Linked DNA regions of Homo sapiens. The protein of the gene in region 5 purifies or fractionates together with the protein of the main gene of each other region. This does not show direct contact. Each region holds a gene or a part of one and is shown on either strand. Other genes may lie near its edges. The genes, in order: SPAG9, COL1A1, TNKS, KLHL13 and TMEM44.

Evidence for each region.
Region 1: the proteins of TMEM44 (region 5) and SPAG9 purify together in Homo sapiens (affinity purification with mass spectrometry; 2 studies listed by BioGRID and IntAct, with this or other methods). This does not show direct contact.
Region 2: the proteins of TMEM44 (region 5) and COL1A1 purify together in Homo sapiens (affinity purification with mass spectrometry; one large-scale study listed by BioGRID and IntAct). This does not show direct contact.
Region 3: the proteins of TMEM44 (region 5) and TNKS purify together in Homo sapiens (affinity purification with mass spectrometry; 2 studies listed by BioGRID and IntAct, with this or other methods). This does not show direct contact.
Region 4: the proteins of TMEM44 (region 5) and KLHL13 purify together in Homo sapiens (affinity purification with mass spectrometry; one large-scale study listed by BioGRID and IntAct). This does not show direct contact.

Annotation. Positions count from the first base shown.
Region 1 is NC_000017.11:51,113,275-51,117,868, forward strand, and holds part of SPAG9 (C-Jun-amino-terminal kinase-interacting protein 4), read right to left. Parts: intron 1-4,594. UniProt on the Homo sapiens protein: The JNK-interacting protein (JIP) group of scaffold proteins selectively mediates JNK signaling by aggregating specific components of the MAPK cascade to form a functional JNK signaling module.
Region 2 is NC_000017.11:50,191,632-50,195,131, reverse strand, and holds part of COL1A1 (collagen alpha-1(I) chain preproprotein), read left to right. Parts: intron 1-31; coding exon 32-85; intron 86-303; coding exon 304-411; intron 412-505; coding exon 506-559; intron 560-684; coding exon 685-783; intron 784-948; coding exon 949-1,002; intron 1,003-1,090; coding exon 1,091-1,189; intron 1,190-2,084; coding exon 2,085-2,138; intron 2,139-2,281; coding exon 2,282-2,335; intron 2,336-2,438; coding exon 2,439-2,492; intron 2,493-2,603; coding exon 2,604-2,657; intron 2,658-3,107; coding exon 3,108-3,152; intron 3,153-3,245; coding exon 3,246-3,344; intron 3,345-3,500. UniProt on the Homo sapiens protein: Type I collagen is a member of group I collagen (fibrillar forming collagen).
Region 3 is NC_000008.11:9,708,917-9,713,510, forward strand, and holds part of TNKS (poly [ADP-ribose] polymerase tankyrase-1), read left to right. Parts: intron 1-1,038; coding exon 1,039-1,130; intron 1,131-1,225; coding exon 1,226-1,304; intron 1,305-4,594.
Region 4 is NC_000023.11:117,920,661-117,925,254, forward strand, and holds part of KLHL13 (kelch-like protein 13), read right to left. Parts: intron 1-4,594. UniProt on the Homo sapiens protein: Substrate-specific adapter of a BCR (BTB-CUL3-RBX1) E3 ubiquitin-protein ligase complex required for mitotic progression and cytokinesis.
Region 5 is NC_000003.12:194,612,247-194,616,840, forward strand, and holds part of TMEM44 (transmembrane protein 44), read right to left. Parts: intron 3,452-4,594; coding exon 3,323-3,451; intron 1-3,322.

The DNA.
Region 1 (4,594 bases), on a different chromosome or scaffold from region 5:
TCTGGGAGGCGGAGGTTGCAGTGAGCTGAGATCGCACCATTGCGCTCCAGCCTGGGCAACAAGTGTGAAATGCCATATCAAAAAAAAAAAAAAAAAAGAAAGAAAAGAAAAAGCAAATAGGTTGGCCGGGCACAGTGTCTCACACCTGTAATCCCAGCACTTTGGGAGGCCAAGGCAGGTGGATCACCTGAGGTTAGGAGTTCAATACCAGCCTGGACAACATGGTAAAACCCCATCTCTATTAAAAATACAAAAGTTAGCGAGGTGTGGTTGTGAGCACCTGTAGTCCCAGCTACTCAGGAGGATGAGGCAGGAGAACTGCTTGAACCCGGGAGGCAGAGGTTGCAGTGAGCCAAGATCGCGCTACTGCACTCCAGCATGGGTGGCAAAGCAAGACCCCATCTCAAAAAAAAAAAAAACAACAACAACAAAAGAAAATAGGTTGGGTGCAGTGGCTCACACCTGTAATCACAGCACTTTGGGAGGCTGAGGTGCGAGGAATGTCTGAGCCCAAATATTCAAGATCAGCCTGGGCAACATGGGAAACCCATTTCTACAAAAAATACAAAAATTAGCCAGGCATGGCGGCATGATCCTGTAGTCCCAGCTATTCCGGAAGTTGAGATGGGAGGATCGCTTGAACCCAGGAGGCAGAGGTTGCAGTCAGCCGGGATTACACCACTGCACTCTGGCCTGGGCAACAGAGTGAGATCTCGTCTCAATCAATCAATCAAAAGATCTATAAAAATATTAAAATATGTGTTTTTTAGGCCAGGTGCGGTGGCTCACGCTTGTAATCCCAGCACTTTGGGAGGCCGAGGCAGGGGGATCACCTGAGGTCAAGAGTTTGAGACCAGCCTGGACAACATGGTGAAACCCCTTCTCTATTAAAACTACAAAAATTAGCCGGGCGTGCTGGCGCGTGCCTGTAATCCCAAACTACTAGGGAGGCTGAGGCAGGAGAATTGCTTGAACCTGGAAGGTGGGAGTTACAGTGATCTGAGATCGCACCACTGCACTCCAGCCTGGGCGACAGCACAAGACTCTGTCTCAAAAATAAATTTTTTAAAAAATGGGCCAGGCATGGTGGCTCATGCCTGTAATCCCAACACTTTGGCAGGCCAAGGTAGGCAGATAACAAGGTCAGGAGTTCAAGACCAGCCTGGCTAACATGGTGAAACCCCATCTCTACTAAAAATACAAAAAGTAGCTGGGCATGGTGGCTCATGCCTATAATCCCAGCTACTCAGAAGGCTGAGACAGAAGAACTGCTTGAATCCAGAAGGCAGAGGTTGCAGTAAGCCAAGATCGTGCCTCTGCACCCCAGCCTGGGCAACAGAGCGTGAAACTCAGTCTCAAAAATAAATAAAATTAAAAAATAAAATATCAAGTGTGGGCCAAGTGTGGTGGCTCACGCCTGTAATCCCAGCACTTTGGGAGGTTGAGGCAGATGAATCACTTGAGGTCAGGAGTTTTACACCACCCTGGCCAACATGGTGAAACCCTGTCTCTACTGAAAATACAAAAATTAGCCGGGTGTAGTGGTGCACACCTGTAATCCCAGCTACTCAGGCAGCTGAGGCAGGAGAATTGCTTGAACCTGGGAGGCAGAGGTTGCAATGAGCTGGGATAGTGCCACTGCACTCCAGCCTGGGTGACAGAGTGAGACTCTGTCTCAAAAAAAAAAAAAATTATGAATGAATGAGAACACTAAAACAAGAACAATGAATGTCAATACCTATTTTCCTGCCCATGAGTCTTACGGGTCCCATGTTCATACACTTCCAAAGACAAGAAGTGTCAAAAGTCTCCATTTAAACAAAAATCATTTTGTTACTGCTTTAAGTGCTGATTCCATGGGAACAAGTTAGAAAATTCTCAGTAGTGTCTCTCACCTCTGCATTCAGTCATCCTATTGTTTTGTTTTTTGGTAAGAAACAGGGTCTTGCCCTGTTGTCAAGGCTGGAGTGCCGTGGCCATGATAACTCACTGCAGTCTCAAACTCCTGGGCTTAAGTGATCCTCCTGCCTTAGCCTCCTGAGTAGCTAGGACTACAGGCTCACACCATCACACCCAACTAATTTTTTTTATGGTTTTTGGGGAAGAGGGGTCTCACTACGTTGCCCAGGCTTGAACTCATCCTTTTTTTTTTTTTTTTAAAGCAAAAGGCCACAAAAAAGCAGACACAAAATCACATAATCCATTCCCAGTAAAGATATTCTCTCTTCAGTCCATTCTCTGCATGTATGAGTCTATCTCAAAAAGGAGGGAAGGAGCCAGGCGCGGTGGTTCACAGTGGCAATCCCAGCACTTTAGGAGGCCAAGGCGGGCGGATCACCTGAGGTCAGGAGTTCAAGACCAGCCTGACCAACATGCAGAAACCCCAACTCCACTAAAAATACAAAATTAGCCAGGCGTGGTGGCGCATGCCTGTAATCCCAGCTACTTGAGAGGCTGAGGCAGGAGAACTGTTTGAACCCAGGAGGCGAAGGTTGCAGTGAGCCGAGATGGCACCATTGCACTCTAGCCTGGGCAACAAGAGAAACTCCATCTCAAAAAAAAAGAAAAGAAAAGAAAAGAAAAGAAAAAGAAAAGGAAGGAAGACAATGCCTCTTCGTTTTTATGTGTAATCTCCCTCTACTGAATGATGCTAAATGAGCTCTCACTTTGAGAATAACAGTGATAACATAAAAGACCCACAGAATCACTAAGAACTAAATTCCTAAAGGTTCTTTAAACTCGTATGTCTACTTTTCAGAAGTTTCTTTTTTTTTTCTTTTTTCTTTTTTGAGAGGTAGTCTCACTCTACTGCCCAGGCTGGAGTACAGAGGCACGATCCCAGCTCACTGCAACCTCCATCTCCCGGGTTCAAGCAATTCTTCTGCATCAGCCTCCCCAGTAGCTGGGATTACAGGCACCCACCACCACACCCAGATAATTTTTGTATTTTTAGTACAGACAGGGTTTCATCATGTTGGCGAGGCTGGTCCCACACTCCTGACCTCAAGTGATCCATCTGCCTCGGCCTCCCAAAGTGCTGGGACTATAGATGTGAGCCACCACACCTGGCCCTTTTTTAAAAGTTACAGCAAATCATGCCTGTTTTAAAAGAATCAGAAGTTGCAGAAAAACCCTAACATACCCAGTTATAACCTCTCTCTCCAGATCATTTTGTATCCAGATTTTTATTTTAAAAAATCACTGGGCTGGGGCACAGTGGCTCACCCCTGTAAGTCCCAACACTTTGGCAGGATCCACAAGGCAGGAGGATCACTTGAGCCCAGGAGTTCCAGACCAGACTGGGCAACACAGTGAGACCTTGTCTCTGTAAAAAATTTAATTAGCCCAGTGTGGTAACGCATGTCTGTGGTCCTAGCTACTCAGGAGGCTGAGGCAAGAGGATCACTTGAGCCCAAGAGATTGAGGCTGCAGTGAACTGTGACTGTGCCACTACACCCCAGCCTAGGCGATTGAGACTCTGTCTCCAAAAAGAATTTAAATTTAAAAGTCACTGATTTTAAAATAAATTATTCAATAGGTTCACAGGGCTTATTCTGGATAGAGTCAACAGGATGTTCTGGCTGAAAAAGTGAAATTGAAACAGAGTAGAAAGTGAGGAGCTAGCTATGTAAAATTCTAAGGAGAGCATTCTAGAGCATGGGCAAAGGCATCAGACGGGTCTTGGTTAAAGAATGGAGAGGTGTGTCACAGGCAGCCCAAAGGAGAGAGTGATGGGCGATAAGATGACAGATTTCTTGATTAGCATCTGAAACCGGTCCAAATCTATCTAAAATTAGCCCTTCTTTAGGTTGTTTTTAAAGAATCCCTAAAACAGCAGACTAGCTCCACACTAGAAATTCAAATAAAAGCAAAGGAAAAAGTCAGAAGGTATTCAAAATATGTCCTATCAATATAAAGATTAAATTTTTGATGCCTTGCTGAGAATTCCTGCAAGCAAGAGATCATAGCACCTCACACATTCCTAAAACATTCTATCTACATACCCACCTAAGTTTCCACAGAGGTGCTCAGAATTTACTTTACTCTCTCTGGTGATGGATAATTTCCATGCTTTCAAATCACTTTTGCTGTAAATACCCTGAGGCACTTACTTTGGTATAAAAGACTCTTGGTCTCCGCATTAAAGACACAAACAGGCCGGCACGGTGGCTCATGCCTGTAATCCCAGCACTTTGGGAGGCTGAGGCGGGCAGATCACGAGGTCAGGAGATTGAGACTATCCTGGCTAAAATGGTGAAACCCCGTCTCTACCAAAAATACAAAAAAATTAGCCAGGCGTGGTGGCACGTGCTTGTAATCCCAGCTACTCAAGAGGCTGAGGCAGAATCGCTTGAACCCGGGAGGCGGAGGCTGCAGTGAGTCAAGATTGTGCCACTGCACTCCAGCCTGGGTGACAGAGCAAGACTCCGTCTCAAAAAAAAAAAAAAAAAAAAAAAAGGCGCAAACAAAGCACTCACAGAAAACTAAACACAGAATTCACTCTACATATTGGCCAAAGGGAGACAATTTCTGGATACTGAGCAACACACAATTTATGATCTTATGTGAAAACTGATGGCCGGGTGTGGTGGCT
Region 2 (3,500 bases), on a different chromosome or scaffold from region 5:
TCTCAGCTCATCCTCTTCTCCCCCCTTGCAGGGTGAACCTGGTGCTCCTGGCAGCAAAGGAGACACTGGTGCTAAGGGAGAGCCTGTAAGTCTCCCCGCCATCCTTCTTGCAGCCCAGCCCACCCTGCCCTAGGAGCCCCCTGAGGGAAATCCAGAAAGGAAGAGGAGCCCCTAGTCTTCTGGGGGAGTCCCTGCCACACCCCCAGGAACCCCTGACACTGGAGGCCCAGCCTCAGCCGGCTCTGAGGCTGGCACAGGATGGCCCCTCACCACAGGCCGCCTCCTCCTCTCGGCCCTCTCCAGGGCCCTGTTGGTGTTCAAGGACCCCCTGGCCCTGCTGGAGAGGAAGGAAAGCGAGGAGCTCGAGGTGAACCCGGACCCACTGGCCTGCCCGGACCCCCTGGCGAGCGTGTAAGTGTCCCTGCCCGCCCCCTCCCGCTCCACCCTCATTGCCTGGCTGGTGCCTGTGTGTCGCGGAGTTCACTGGCCTCCTCTCCTCCTGCAGGGTGGACCTGGTAGCCGTGGTTTCCCTGGCGCAGATGGTGTTGCTGGTCCCAAGGTAACCTCTCCTTGCGGCCGGGGGGCTGACCCTGCCGCTCCCTGGGCATCTTCTTCCTCTTTTGGCCCGTGGCAAAGAGCCACAAACTTGAGACCCTAACTGTTCCTGTGACTTCCCCCAACCAGGGTCCCGCTGGTGAACGTGGTTCTCCTGGCCCTGCTGGCCCCAAAGGATCTCCTGGTGAAGCTGGTCGTCCCGGTGAAGCTGGTCTGCCTGGTGCCAAGGTGAGGCCCCAGGCTTTCAGCCTGGCTTGGCCAGGCCCTGACCATCCCGTGTAGGGTCTGGGATGAGGCGTTCTGGATCAGGCCCAAGGGTCTGCCCTCTGGAGTCCTCCCCCACCTCCATCATGCTTCTCCCCAAGTCCCACTCATACCTCTCTGCCTCCCTAGGGTCTGACTGGAAGCCCTGGCAGCCCTGGTCCTGATGGCAAAACTGGCCCCCCTGTAAGTATCACTCCCCCTGAACCCCCTGCCATTGTCCTGTCTGCCTCCCTGCTGTCCTCACTGCTGCTTTCGTGCCTCCCATCCTTAGGGTCCCGCCGGTCAAGATGGTCGCCCCGGACCCCCAGGCCCACCTGGTGCCCGTGGTCAGGCTGGTGTGATGGGATTCCCTGGACCTAAAGGTGCTGCTGTGAGTATTAAGTGAGGATCCATGAAGAGCCAGGGACAAACACACCTGAGACTTGAAGGAGTCCTGGGCTCTGGGCTCAGCTGTGCCGCTGACCTGCCGTGTGGCCACTCACTCTCACTTTCTGGACCTCAGCCTCCCTATCTGTAAAATGAAAGACTTCTCGGCGGGGCACGGTGGCTCATGCCTGTAATCCCAGCACTTTGGGAGGCCAAGGCGGGCAGACCATGAGGTCAGGAGTTTGAGACCAGTCGGGCCAACATAGTGAAACCACGTCTCTACTAAAAATACAAAAGATTAGCTGGGTGTGGTGGTGTGCACCTGTAACCCCAGCTAGTCAGGAGGCTGAGGCAGGAGAATTGCATGAACCCGGGAGGTGGAGGTTGCAGTGAGCTGAGATCACGCCATTGCACTCCAGCCTGGGCAACAGTGCGAGATTCCATCTCAAAAAAAAAAAAAAAGAAGAAAGAAAGAAAGAAAAAATGAAACACTTCTCCAGGCTCCATGACCACTGCTCTGTCCTGGAAATAAGTGTTGTTGGTGGCCCTCCACCCCGACACGTGGGGATAGGACAGGCCTTTGATATGATAGGCACCCCCAGTCTTGGTGGATTCTTTGAGGTCCAAAAGGAGATAGCAGAGAAGATGAAAGCCCTTTGCAGTGCAGGCCACAGCGGGCATCTAACAGGGAAAAGGCAGAGGAGCCTGGAAGGGCATCTTGGGAGGAGTGGGCTCAGAAAGGGCCCAGCAAGAAGCACCTGCAGGGGCATTCCCCGGGGGCCAAACAGTCTTTTGAAAAGAAAGTCCCTTAAAAAGTCCCACTCAGAGTAAATGAGAGGCCCCAGGAGGCCCTGGCTTCTCACTTCAGCCCCCTCAACCCTAACTCCCTTTCTCCACAGGGAGAGCCCGGCAAGGCTGGAGAGCGAGGTGTTCCCGGACCCCCTGGCGCTGTCGTAAGTATCTCCTTTCCATCCCTACCTCCTTCCCATTGCTGCCCCGGCACTTTCTCCTCCCTGCAGGAGGGGTGCTAGAGGCCACGGTCCTCAGCTGCTCGGGGCCTCCTAACCCTGAGTTCCCCTTTGCTCTCTCCCTGCAGGGTCCTGCTGGCAAAGATGGAGAGGCTGGAGCTCAGGGACCCCCTGGCCCTGCTGTGAGTGTCCCTGATGGGGAGATCTGGGGAGCAGAAAAGGGGAGACACCCTCAGCCCCTCGTCTCCTCGGCCTCCCCGTGACTGTAGTGTTCTCTCTGTGCAGGGTCCCGCTGGCGAGAGAGGTGAACAAGGCCCTGCTGGCTCCCCCGGATTCCAGGTGAGGCCTCATGGCTGTCAGGATGCTGGGAGGTAGGGGTAGGAAACACCTCTTTGGTCTCTTCCAGATTCTAAACCTTCCCTCCCTTCTTCCCCCATTTCCCACCTACAGGGTCTCCCTGGTCCTGCTGGTCCTCCAGGTGAAGCAGGCAAACCTGGTGAACAGGTAAGAGGGAGCAGCCGGCCAGAGGGGTGGGAGATGCAGGGAATCCAGAGGGACAGGCCCCCGCTCCTAGCTAATCAGACAGCCATCAACTAGAGGGATTGAGGTTAGACGCCGGAAAGAACTTCCTCCCATGAAGGGAGCAGCACAGAGGGAAGTGGGGGCTGCATGATTGCTAGTCTGGGTGACTTCTTTTAAGAGCTGCTGGAATATGCTGTGACTTTCCCTCAACCCTTCTATTGATAAATCTTGGTCCATAGTTTGGGGAGGGGGGAAGCCTTTGACACATCCCTAGGAGGAAGAGAGGGGCTGTTTGGGATAATCTCAATTCAGTGCTGAGAAGGGGTTCCTCTCTAATCACGGCCAGACCCCAGGAGGAAGGACCGTGCTTTCCAGCAGAGTGGCCCCAGGTGGGTTTTGCTCACTGTCTGTTCCTCTCTCCCTCCCCCTCAGGGTGTTCCTGGAGACCTTGGCGCCCCTGGCCCCTCTGGAGCAAGAGTAAGTAGGCCTCTCTCGCTGCATCCGTCAAGGTGCGTCGTACTTGGCCCTATCTCCAGAGCAGCCTTCACATGCCCTGTCCTTCCCTTCTAGGGCGAGAGAGGTTTCCCTGGCGAGCGTGGTGTGCAAGGTCCCCCTGGTCCTGCTGGTCCCCGAGGGGCCAACGGTGCTCCCGGCAACGATGGTGCTAAGGTGAGGGCAGCGTGGAAGGGGCTCTGGCAAGTGGCCCAGGGACCAGGTCTCACCCCTCCTGCAGCAGGGGATGGCGGGCCATGACCAAAGCCATGGAGATAGGGTGTGGGGTGGGGGGAAAAGACCAGGGCAGGGGCCCACACACAGCCTGGAGTC
Region 3 (4,594 bases), on a different chromosome or scaffold from region 5:
TTCATGGTAGAAAAATGGCAAGATCATGAATTTTTTGTTTGATACTATACAAATTATTCTTAAAACTATCCACGTTTTTTTCTTCAAATGCACTTTCGGAAAGATTTATTTATTTTCTTTGTCATTGACACATTAAGGCTCAGCTAGAGAGTGGTTAGTGATCGCTCCTAAATTCAGAATTTAAGCATATGTGATGCCTGCATCACAGACCTTAAATATACCTAATTAATATTCTTACGTATATTTGACACAAAAGATCAAACGTTTGTCAGTATCTGCATAAAACAACATTAAAGGATTGACCAAACTGAAATAGGCTAACTATATGTACACTTAAATACATGTCTCTCAAACTAGGGTTGAGATAGATTCAAGCTACACGGTGTTATGCTAGGAGATATTCATAGCCACAGAATAAACCTGACCCACTTTTTTGGAGTTTTCATTTTATTTAGTTGAAAGTAGTTTTTTATTTTTAAATTTTAATACGAATATTAAAATGAAGCAGAATAAAAAAGTTGTATAAATATTATGTTAAAACCTAAAATTTCTGAGAATATTTTTCTCTAAACTGCTTCAGTTCTATCATTTTCTTGCTTATCCTTGGGCATATAAACGTCTCCTGTAGTGCTGGGAGTACCTCTGTAGAAGAGCTTAGAAATACTGACTTGTGTGGCTGATGGCCTAATGAAAGATTGAGTAACTTAGTTATAGATTTCTGTAGCGTTGCAGAGGCATACGTATTATGATGCTCTCCATGGAATATATAGTGAATATTTATTGATTGGCTAAGCCAAAAGAAATAAGATCTCTCTTAATGTTTAAGAGCATAATTTCACCTTGGTTTAAACGCTTACGTTTTGTATTTCCACTATACGTAGAAAGAATATGGATCATCTCTGTGATATAAAACATATACATATGTTCTGATACTCTGAGATAACAATGTTTTAAATGGTCAGCAGATACTGTTCAATTCCAAGAGCTACTGTACATATGGAAGTGTATTTTATTAACTTGGTTTTGTTTACTTTATAGCACTGTGCTGTGGCCTCTCTGCATCCCAAACGTAAACAAGTGACAGAATTGTTACTTAGAAAAGGAGCAAATGTTAATGAAAAAAATAAAGAGTAAGTATAATTGCAGAAGGAGTTGTTCAGTTCCTAAAGAGGAAATGCAATAAAAGAGAGACAATTACCTTTTCTTTCTTTCCTCTTTTCTGTAGTTTCATGACTCCCCTGCATGTTGCAGCCGAAAGAGCCCATAATGATGTCATGGAAGTTCTGCATAAGCATGGCGCCAAGGTGAGGCACACACCTGAGCAGAGTGCCAGACTCAGCACTGAGCAGCCAGCTGCTCTTAACACTGCTTCTCTCTCTCCGATTTTTCTGAAGAAACTAATTTTATAAAGGACTATTAGTTCGTACTTAAATTCATGGATTCTCCTATAAAGCTGATTTAGATCTTGTTTCTAATAAAAATAATTACCCGTGTTTCTTGATCCTTTAATGTCACCCTTCTGTAAAGCAACAAAATATAGCTATAGTCATTTGAAATAGATTTCATCTTTACATTACTTTCAGTTAATACTATACGGATATATTTTGATAGTGTCCACTTGAATAACAGTTTATCAGAAAATAAATTATGTTAAATGATAGCATCAGAATAGCTCTACTTATTCTAAAAAACATTTGTGGCCAGGCACAGTGGCTCACGCCTGTAATCCCAGCACTTTGGGAGGCCGAGGCAGGTGGATCACGAGGTCAGGAGATGGAGACCATCCTGGCTAAGACGGTGAAACCCCGTCTCTACTAAAAATACAAAAAATTAGCCGGGCGTGGTGGCGGGTGCCTGTAGTCCCAGCTACCCAGGAGGCTGAGGCAGGAGAATGGCATGAACCTGGGAGGCGAAGCTTGCAGTGAGCTGAGATTGCGCCACTACACTCCAGCCTGGGAGACAGAGTGAGAATCTGTCTCAAAAAAAAAAATTGTATGCCTTCAGATTTGTAATAATTTTCTCAACCTCTACACTAAAGAAATATGACATATTTAATAATTTTTACTGGCATTTTCTGAATGGTGTAGTCTGAAACTTTGTCAAGCACTTAAGAGAGGAAAGAAGCAAACTGGTTGTTTTTTAGAGGTGACTTGAAATTATAGATTTTTTCATTCTCAAGAATGTATATTTCAAAGCAGTTGTCTCCAAAGTAGGGTATAGACTCCCTATGGAGCATACAAGATGCCCTGTTGGAAAAATCCTAGCATTTCAATTTATAATACTTTTATTTAAGAATAAGGAAATTCAGATTTACCAATATTGAATACAAAGATGATGCCAGCACTCTCACTAGGTCCACGTGTCAGCCATTGTGACTCGTGATGTCAAGGTTTCCTGAGGTAAGAGTGGGACTTGTTAGTATCGAGGGATTGACAGTGGCAAACTCACTTGTTTGTTCCCTTTCAGCATATTTTGGCATAGTGTACTTTACTTGTGTCCAAATGAGTTGAATTTATGGATATTATCCTAAATGGTAGAACTTTTATAAATATCATACTTGATCAGAGTAGTGACCCTGACAAGGGACACAGGGAGTGACCCTGACATGCTTTTATAGTGTAAAAAGGTGGTCTGGTTATTTTGTGAAGTAGTATTTTAAGGTGTTGTCATAGTTGTGTTCTTTTTAATGAAAATAAAAGGGTTCAAAATTTGTTAATAGTTCTCTGAGGACAAATGACCATGACTTGCATGTAGATACCCTTTAAAAAGGAAACATAATCAGATCCTTAAAGGTAAAAGTTACACACTTTAGGTAAATGATAAAATAACTGCTTTTTTAAAAGAAACTTTAAAAAATGAAGAGAACGTTTTGAACATAGATTTTTAGAAAATGTTCACTTTTCTGTGATTTTGCTGAAAAATGATATAAATGAATCACCCAGCCGTCATATCTACATAATTTAAACACATAAAAACAGAATTTTCTCACCTGTTCAAAAGCCTTCCTTAATTTGGTTTTAGGGTAGATTTTGAATCTATTCAAAACATTGTAATGCAGCACTTCCTAATAACTTCGCAAGAACATCAGTAAAGATGGAATTTTACTACAGAATTTCAATGAAAGCCTTAGCATAATTAGTAAATTACATTAAAATTAGGCATTCTGATTGAGTAGGCATAGTTAACAATGCATTTATTTCATTGGCTCCATGAATCTGTATGAAATCTTTGCAACTAATATAGCCATTCAAACTAATTATCAAAAATGAACTTAGAGCCACGTGTAGTGGCCCGTAATCACTCCTGTAATCCCAGAGCTTTAGGAGGCAAAGGCAGAAGGATTGCTTGAGGCCAGGAGTTCGACACCAGCCTGGGCAACACAGCAAGACACTATCTCTACAAAAAATTTAAAAATTAGCCAGTCGTGGTGGTGTGCACCTATAGTCCTAGCGACTCGGGAGGCTGAGGCAGGAAGATCACTTGATCCCAGGAGTTTGAGGCTGCAGTGAGGTATGATCATACCACTGTACTGCAGCCTGGGCAACAGAGCAAGACTCTGTCTCTAAAGAAAAATGAAATGAACCTAAAATTAAACCCTCAAATTCCTAATATCACAATTTTTATAAGTTTTTTTAAATGTTTAAACTACAGTCAATGGATATTTTCTAGCATAAGTAATTAAAATATGTTTTGGACAGGTACCATAGCCTATGCCTTAATCCCAGCACTTTGGGAGACTGAGGTGGGAGGATCGCTTGAGCCCAGGATTTTGAGATCAGCTGGGCAACACAGGCCAACCCCGTCTCTACAAATAATAAAAAAAAATAGCCAGATGTGGTGGTGCATTCCTGTAGTCCCAGCTACTCGGGAGGCTGAGGTGGGAAAATCACTTGAGCCCAAGAGGTCGAGGCTGTAGTGAGCTGTAATCATGCCACTACACTGTAGCCTGGGTGACAGAGCAGTACTCTATCTCAGAAAATAATAATCATGAAATCTTTTTAAATTTTTAATTATTTCATCTCTTTCTCATCCTTCATAAATTCTCTTTGTGTAAGTTTTATAATAGTATAGCACTTCTTGGTTATAATTTACAAAGAAATTCATATATATATATTAAGTGTTCTCAAAACTTTTCTACCTGGAGGGTGTGTGATTTAAAAATTTGGATATCACTGCCTTAAAATGGCACTTTATGTTTTTAATTTATGAAATGAAGACAAAGTGGAATAAAAGGGAACAGAGTTCTACAGATGTATTACCTATTTTGTAGGTACAACTACTGCATTATTATATAAGTAGCATCTTGTTGCTCTTTCAAGCAGAAAACACTAAGCTAAGTGACATTTCTGCTACACTTAGGAGCTTTGTACATTTATCTTTGACCCGTTTTTGCAAATATCTAATGACATTTATAATGCTCTTGAAAAATTAGGAATAATGCCCTTCATTTTGGGAAAATAGTATCTATTTATTGTCTCCCATCAGGCATTTTAGTTTATAAAGGTTCAATGGAAAATAACATTATGACTTGTTCTAGTCAGCCTTTCTCTAGGTCTGTGGTTCTCACTCTTTATTTGCCCTTTATGTGCACAGT
Region 4 (4,594 bases), on a different chromosome or scaffold from region 5:
GAAAAATAATTACAATGTGCACTTCTACTTTCCCATCTGCAGAATGAGAGTATTAGACTGTCTTAACATTCCTTTTCGCGATAATTTAATAGTCCTTTTATAGTGCTTGACTGAAGCATCTTGGTTTTGTTTTGTTTTGGGGGAGGTTGAGAAAGAAAAGTAGAGAGCAACTGTATTAAGTACACGATAGTTCTTTCTACTAATTGTATTACTTCATCTCTTTGAGAAGCCTATACTCAGTACATTGCTGCTGCCTGGCCAAATATCTTTCAAGTTTCAAGTTTGAGACTTAATTATCTTTGTTTGAAAAAAAACAAAAAAAAGCCCAGGAAACCCCAACATGAGACTTAATTGTCTCCAAATGCCTAAAGGTTTAGTGGAGAATTAACAGGCTAGCAGCCACAATTCAGAGGAGTGACAGAGCTCTGGTGAGAAGAATCCTTGTTGATTAGCTTTTTCACTACACCCTGATGGTCTCAACTAACGACAAATAGACAGTTGTTCTATTGATATAAGTTGGAAGAATGACAATCACTTTTAAGATTATAACAGGTTGAATCTACAACATACACATATTTCAAAACATCATGTTTTTCAATTTTTATCTTTTATTTTTAATTTTTGTGGGTACAGAGATGTATGCTTTAGGGGATGGATACCCCATTTACCATGATGTGATTAAAATATCATGTTTTACATGACAAATTATATATAATGTTTATTTGTCGATTAAGAATAACGAATTTAAAAAGATTGTAACAGGCTACTAAAGTACACCAAAAGGGAACAATATGCAATTTAACAATGATACAAAAAATGAACATTTTGGCAAGATTGAGTCTGTAGTTTCAAAGATAGAAATGTTTCATTATAAAAAACCAGGAAGACAGATACACAAAATACACAAATTGCTTTCTAATAATATAATACAGTAAGAACCAACAGCATTGATTACTCTGTCCCCTTCATATTTTAATGACTTCAAATAAAACTATGTTTTGTTTCACAGATTTAAAGAGCAAAAGGCATAACATATTAAGAATGCAGTTTTAAAAATATTGATCCTACACATATGTGTAGTATAAACCCTAGTTAAGCTTCTCATTTTAATTTTAAAGCTTTTTAAAGAAAATGCTTGAATTACAGAACTGGAACTTCAAAGAGATGATCTGATCCAGCCACTCTCCCTCTAGGGAAAGAGATGAATATTTTTATTCCAAAAATATTTATACATTATACATACACTTTAAAACAAGATTATATATCATATTTTTCTTTTTCCAACAATGATTGACATGTTTATGTTAACAAATATCAAATCTTTCACAAATGCCCCTTTTTCTTTGTAAACCCAAACATTATATATCCTATGCCACTATTTTTATTTTCCATTACTAATTCGTCTGCTGTCTCTGTTATTTAGAAAAGTAGAAGTAAAATAATAATAGCTCATCTTATAAAAAGAGATGCCAATTTTAAGGGAATATTCTCATGCTGAAGGCATGAGAAGAGTCACTTCAGCTCTTTTTTTGTTTTGTTTTTTTGAGACAGAGTCTCGCTCTGTCGCCCAGGCTGGAGTGCAGTGGCGCGATCTCGGCATTGATATATGGGGTCTAAATTGCAATAAATTTGTGGGAATCACCTTTCAAATGTAGAGTATTGGGAAGCAGTGAATGAGGACACTAGGGTGTGGGAGAGGATAGTCAAGCATCAGCTGAAACAGTTGAGAGACTAGCATCTTTGAATTCCCCAGTGTTTGGCATACTGTTGGTACTTAATATATGTTCCATTAACGCATGAACAAACAAACAAAATTTTACTCAGAAGCTACCACTGGTAACTTTAAAGCCATGTAGTCACATTGGGTAGGATGTAAACTTTGCAACAAGTTAACTGGAAACCAGGAACTTATTTGTGAAACCTCTCCCAATAATAAAATGAGTTGTGCTTAAAGTGTTCGTTTGTGTTCGTTTGTGGTAGTTTGTGGTAGTGGTAAAGGTTAAGGTAAGAGAAAAGGTAGTGAACCAGGAGTTGGGGAGAAAACGTTGGCTCCCAAACTTGTGTTTGTTTTATCCCTCATATAAATTTCAGGTTTAAAAAATTAAATATGTGCTTGTATGTTTTTTGAAGTCAAAATACAGAAGGATATAAGTTAAAAACTTAAAGGCTACCTCTTTCACTTACTAGAAGTAACCACTGTTAACAGTTTAGTAAGCATACTTCAAGACCTCATTCTCTATATATCATAATCTACATTATGCTTGTATTAAAATATATAAAGGCCTCTTTAAAGTGGGTTACTATACATACTGTTGTGCATTTTAAAATTCACTTGAGCAGATAACACAGATAGTCTTCTATCTCAGTGCACAGGATTTATTTCATTCTTTTAGTGCATGCACAGTAATCTACAGTAGGGGCATGTCATAAGTTATTTATCCATTCCCGCTTAGTTGAACACTCAGGTTTTCCCTCAAATTCTGCAGTTATAAGCAATGCCGCAATTAACTTCCTTGTACATACACTTAGCTGTCTAAGTATATCTGTGGGAGATATTCTCAGGACTGGAGTTGTTGGTTCGAAGGATATTTATTTTTAAAGTTTTGAATAGCTAATGGCAAGTTAAAGGATTTGATTTTTCTTGGGAAAAGTAACATACCTTGGGCATTGGCATAAAAAAGAGATGTCAAGATACTAATGAGATGAGTCTAGGTACTGTATGCCCCCTTTATGTTTATTTATCAAATAGTTTTTTATTCTTCTTCTCTAAAGCATACGTAGACAATATCTTTATAAAGAAATTCTGGATTATTTATTCAAAAGCAATGATTGTATCTGATCCATTATTTTCTTCCACTAAAGAACAAAAACAAACAAACAAACAAAACCTTCTTGGCTTATTTGCTAGCCTCCTGCCTTTAAAATATTCCTGCAAATATTTTACAATTGGAATTGAATAATGTCAGTATGTTCCATTCCTACTACATATTACTTTTTTTTCCCTCTGAAAAGAGGAGTAGCTTGTGCATCATGTATCGTCAGCTGTGTAATTTCTTGTTTTGTCCATATTCCATTCAAACTGCTTGTGGAGGTATGTAATCAATGCTCAAGATCTGGACAGCTTTGCTCAGCTAAGACACCGGGAGCTTTTATTCTTTTCACAGATTTTATCATTTTGTGTCCCTTTACACTATCATTTTTAAAAAATCCTTTAACCTTTCTCAGTATAATCTGGTGTCCCAAAAGAAAAGAAGTTAAGGCACCTAGAGCATTTTTAACAAATTCGGAGTGTCTTTTATTCCACGCTTAATGTATCTACCTTTGGCAAGTTATCTGCTTTTGTAAGGTTTTACATTTATTTTCACAACATACAGTGTCCCTTTCTAAACATTTCATAACCTTTATTTTTATATGCATAAATGAATGACCCCACTATCCAATTCCATATTAGTGAATTTTATTCTACGTTATGTCTATCTTTATCCAAATGATATCTGTCAATTCAGATTGTTTTCAAACAAATTCTAAACATCTTGTTTGTATATTATTTTCCAGATATCCCAGTTCTGTCTAAAGAGAAGCTCCTTCTGACTATACACATTGTTGTGTACAAGAAGGCAGTCATTTCTCTAAACACCTTTTATTCTCTAATCTTCTAGTGAAGTATGCATACATTAAAAGAAAAAGAGAGAGGTTCATTATCTTCCAAAATTCTCATCTGCCTTCTATATATCTACTTTTTGCTTTCACTCATAAATCTTTTCCCCTATTTAAGAAGCCTTTCAAAGATTCCTGCACACTCGAAATAAGTCCTTTTACTGTAAAATCATTTTCTTTCACCAAACTTGTACTCACTCTTCTTGAAAGATTTACATGAACATTTTTGTCTGTTTCCATATGCTAGTATACCATATACCTATGCAGCTCTGCTTTAGGCAAATTGTTCAGTTTCTAATTAGTTTTTCAGAATGTCCTTAAAACTGCTTCTGTTGATTTAAACTCATCATCTTTCCAGTCTCTCTATCTCAACACTTATCTTAGTTCTCTACTTTTCTGTCTCTGTGCCTTGGGTTTGATTTAAGAGGGGTTTGTCTGTCCTCAATTTCTTTAATATTTCCCTTTCTTCTTCTATAAATCTCCCCATATCTTCCTTTATTTTCTTCTCCATATCCTGGAAAAATAGCGTCATTTAATGCTATTTTGATGCTGGAAAATAGCATTTTAATGCTATTTTTAATGTTTAATGTTTTAATGTTTAATGTTTAATGTTTTTAAACATGTTTTTTCTCTTCACTGTATTAAACTTACCCAATGTATCAAAACTTCAACCTCTATTAAATAGAGAGAGGTACATATCTAATACCAGGAAACAAAGAAAGTCTGAAACATCTAATGAGTTTGATAAATTTTAAAATGATCATATTAAAACAGAATAGAATATGACTTGATATTACAGGATTATAACATGGAAACCAGACAAGCTATGAATAATTTGTATAAAAATTACTTGGATGTCAATAGCTTTCAAGTGAAATATAATGCTATTGTGAAAAAAAGCTACATTGATACTGTCAGGTATTTAAAAGGAATTTGA
Region 5 (4,594 bases):
CAGGGCTCTGTTAATATTTTGGCCCCCTTTTGGAATATAATTTCCTAACAGTTGCTAGAAAGAAATGAAAATAACTTCCCACTAGGGCCTCATGGGAACGTGGCTCTTTGGTCTGGGCACCTATATAAAAAATGCTTTCCTCTGCGTCACATACACCACGATCTTCTATTTCACGGACTCAGTCGGATCACATGGTTAAGCCATTTGGAGAACATTCGGAGGGGCAGTTTTTGTTTTTGTCGGTCCAAATGCACTCCCCATCACTTCCTCCATCCTGGCCACGGAGGAAGTTACTCACAGCCTCACACCCACTCTCTGTGAGAGGAGTCTAAGGTAGTGAAGAGCCCAGGTAATAGATGAGAGTTTTTTCCAAAAAAAAAAAAAAATTGAAATCTTAGAAAAGAGGGAGCCATTTTATATTCAAGTCCTTTTTTTTGAGACGGAGTCTCGCTCTGTCGCCCAGGCTGGAGTGCAGTGGCGGGATCTCGACTCACTGCAAGCTCCGCCTTCTGGGTTCACGCCATTCTCCTGCCTCAGCCTCCCGAGTAGCTGGGACTACAGGCACCCGCCACCGCGCCCAGCTAATTTTTTGTATTTTTAGTAGAGACGGGGTTTCACTGTGGTCTCGATCTCCTGACCTCGTGATCCGCCCGCCTCTGCCTCCCAAAGTGCTGGGACTACAGGCCTGAACCACTGCACCCAGCCTATATTCAAGTCCTTACAAGCTTTCTTTGAGTTACTTTCTCAATTATTTGGAACCAAAAACTTTTGATGAAGACAAATGGCCTCAATTAGAGTAAGTTCTGACTACTTGTAGAGGTCATCTGTTTAAATCAATAAAAGGAGACGCATTAACTTTAGCCGGTGGCATGACATAATTGTAAAGGTTTGATATTGCTGTAAACAACACTTATTTTTTATTTTTATTTATTTATTTATTTATTTTCTTGAGACAGATTTTCACTTTATTGCCCAGGCTGGAGTACAGTGGCACGATCCCGGCTCACTGCAACCTCCGCCTCCTGGGTTCAAGTGATTCTCATGTCTCAGCCTCCTGAGTAGCTGGGATTACAGGTGCCCGCCACCACGCCCAGCTGATTTTTGTATTTTTAGTAGAGACGGAGTTTCACCACGTTGCCCAGGCTGGTCTCGAACTCTTGAGCTCAGGCAATCTGCCCATCTCGGCCTCCCAAAGTGCTGGCATTACAGGCATGAGGCACCATGCCTGGCTTAATGAACACTTTAAAAAAAAAGTTTTTTTTCGAGACGGAGTTTTGCTCTTGTTGCCTAGGCTGGAGTGCAATGGTGCGATTTTGGCTTACTGCAACCTCCGCCTCCCAGGTTCAAGCGATTCTCCTGCCTCAGCCTCCTGAGTAGCTGGAATTACAGGCGCGTGCCACCACACCCAGCTAATTTTTGTATTTTTAGTAGAGACAGGAGTTTCACCACGTTGGTCAGGCTGGTCTCGAACTCCTGACCTCATGATGCACCCACCTCGGCCTCCCAAAGTGTTGGGATTACAGGCGTGAGCCACTGCACATGACCTCCTAAACAACACTTAAAGATCAGATTTCTAGCATAAAAAAACAGAATAGGCCGGGCCCGGTGGCTCACACCTGTAATCCCAGCACTTTGGGAAGCCGAGGTGGGCGGATCATCTGAGGTTGGGAGTTTGAGACCAGCCTGACCAACATGGAGAAACCCAGTCTCTACTAAAAATACAAAATTAGCCGGGCATGGTGGTGCATGCCTGTAATCCCAGCTACTTGGGAGGCTGAGGCAGGAGAATCGCTTGAACCCGGGAGGCGGAGGTTGTGGTGAGCCGAGATCGTGCCACGGCACTCCAGCCTCGGCAACAAGAGCAAAACTCCGTCTCCAAAAAACAAAATAAAACAAAACAAAACAAAAAACCAAAAAAACCACAAGGAATAGAGTAAGTAGTTACATTGCAGTGACCACAAACAGCAAATGGGTCCTCGTGGCTTGAGAGGACTTTCTAGAGGCAGCATCACAAGCCGATTTCCAAAGGCTGGATCATGTAGCTGGGCATGACGACAGGCTCTGGAGCACCGTGTTAGGTGGTGGTAATGATGTGGATATTAAAGATGCATGTGAAAGTGGGAATACAGTTTTTGAAGAAATATGAGTGAAAATCACATAATTTACTTATGTTTTTGAGATGGGGTCTCACTCTGCAGCTCAGGTTGTAGTGCGGTGGCGCCATCTTGGCTCACTGCAACCTCTGCCTCCAGGATCAAGAGATCCTCCTGCCTCAGCCTCCTAAGTAGCTGGGACTACAGGCACACACCACCATACCCGGCCAATTTTTTTTGTATTTTTGGTAGAGACGGGGTTTCACCCTGTTGCCCAGGCTAGTCTTGAGCTCCTGAGCTCAAGCAATCTGCCTGCCTTGGCCACCCAAAGTGCTGGGATTACAGGCATGAGCCACTGCACCCGGCCAAAAATCACATTATTTAAAAATGAATATATTAAGGTATGTAGCATGTGAACTTAACTACCAGTAAGTAAATTATTCAAAAGCTTCAAGTGGGCATGCGACTATTCCATCTACATTGCTAAAAATATAAGCCATTAAGTGACCAAAAAACTTCAAAACATTTGTATAATTGCGAAACCGGAGGATCCTATGGCATTCAGGCTTCCCTTAGCTTTGAACATAGACAGTAGCTTTTTAAAGTGACCAACTGGGCTACGCACCACGGCTTATGCCTGTAATCCCAGCACTTTGGGAGGCCAAGGTGGGCAGATCACCTGAGGTCAGGAGTTCGAGACCAGCCTGGCCAACATGGTGAAACCCCATCTGTCTCTACTAAAAATACAAAATATTAGCCGGGCGTGGTGACATGTGCCTGTAATCCCAGCTACTTGGGTGGCTGAGGCAGGAGAATTACTTGAATCTGGGAGGCGGAGGTTGCAGTGAGCTGAGATTGTGCTACTGCACTCCAGCCTGGGCAACAGAGCAAGACTCCATCTCAATCAATCAATAGATTAAAAAAAAATAAAAATAAAGCGACCAACTGGGCAAGCAGGGAGGGACTTCTGGAATTCCCAAGCCCCGGCCCTCATGGAGGCTCAATGCCCCGTCCACTCCATGCCAGTAAACAGGAAGGGCCCGTTACATGTCATGTGTTAGGTTTGGCCACTATTCCCTCAGCGAGACAGGACAGCTGTCTGAGTCGCCTGCAGAGAACACTCGGCAGGCAGCTTTCACACGTCCGTCCGCAGTATCCTGCTGTTTCTCAAGATACTGTTGCTGGGACCAGAGTTTTCCAGCCAGAGAGACCTTGTCCTCGTTCCTCACCTCCTGGTTTTCTTCCTCTTTCTCTGCACAGGTCAAAAGGGCTTGGGTGTCAGGGCTCTCTCTGGCTTCCTTGGCAAATCCTAAGGCCTGTCTCATCTTGCTCTTCATCACACACGAAAGGAAAATAATCTGAGATGGTGTAAGTTAAGGTAGGAAGCAGAATATTCCAGCTGCCTAGCGTGGCCCTTCACCCCTCCACACCATGCTGCCACCCCCCTCCCCACTCACCTACTCTCCTCCCTCCCCTGTATTATCCTGCCTGGGACAGAGAGGAGCTCATCTGAAGACAGGGCTAGGGTGGATGTTCCTGTCCTCACGAGGGCCCAGCATCCAATGTGACCCTGTCCCTAACAAGGACATGGTAAATATTTGCAAAACTAAAGCATTTTGGAAAACGTCTTTCTTGACAGGCCTGGCTTACAGTGACAATACATGCAGTGGGTTGAATAGTGTCCCTCAAAATTCAGATCCACCTCTGAATGTGACCCCCTTTTTTTTTTTGAGACAGAGTCTCGCTCTGTCACCCAGGCTGGAGTGCGGTGGTATGATCTTAGCTCACTGCAACCCCTGCCTCCCTGGTTCAAGCGATTCTCTCGCCTCAGCCTCCCAAGTAGCTGGGATTACGGGCACCTGCCATCATGCTCGGGTAATTTTCGTATTTTTAGTAGAGACCGGGTTTCACCATGTTGGCCAGGCTGGTCTCAAACTCCTGATCTCAGATGATCCTCCCATCTTGGCCTCCCAAAGTGCTGGGATTACAGTCGTGAGCCACCGTGCCCGGCCCAGACTGTGACCTTATTCGGAAGTAGGGTCCTTGCTGATACAATTAGACAATGAAGTCATAGTGGATTGGACTGGGCCCTAACTCCAACAGCTGGGGTCCCTATAAGAAAAGGAGACACACGAAGATACACAAAGGGAAGAAGGCCACATGAAGGGCAAGGCAGAAATGTAAACGACACTGCCATGCATCAAGGGACACCAGGAGCCACTAGCAGCTCCTGCAGCTCCACTGGCAGCTGGAAGAGGCAAGCGAAGATTCCCCTCTTAGCGCCTGCAGACGGCGTGGCCCTGCCTTGCCTTCACACACACCCCACCACCAACACGCCACAGCCATTAACCACAGTCAGCATCTAAAAATACAAACATTTTTAGTCTCCACTAAAAATAACAAAAATTAGCCAGACGTGTTGGCATGCACCTGTAGTCCCAGCTACTCGGGAGGCTGAGGCAGGAGAATTGCTTGAAATTGGGAGGTGAAGGTTGCAGTGA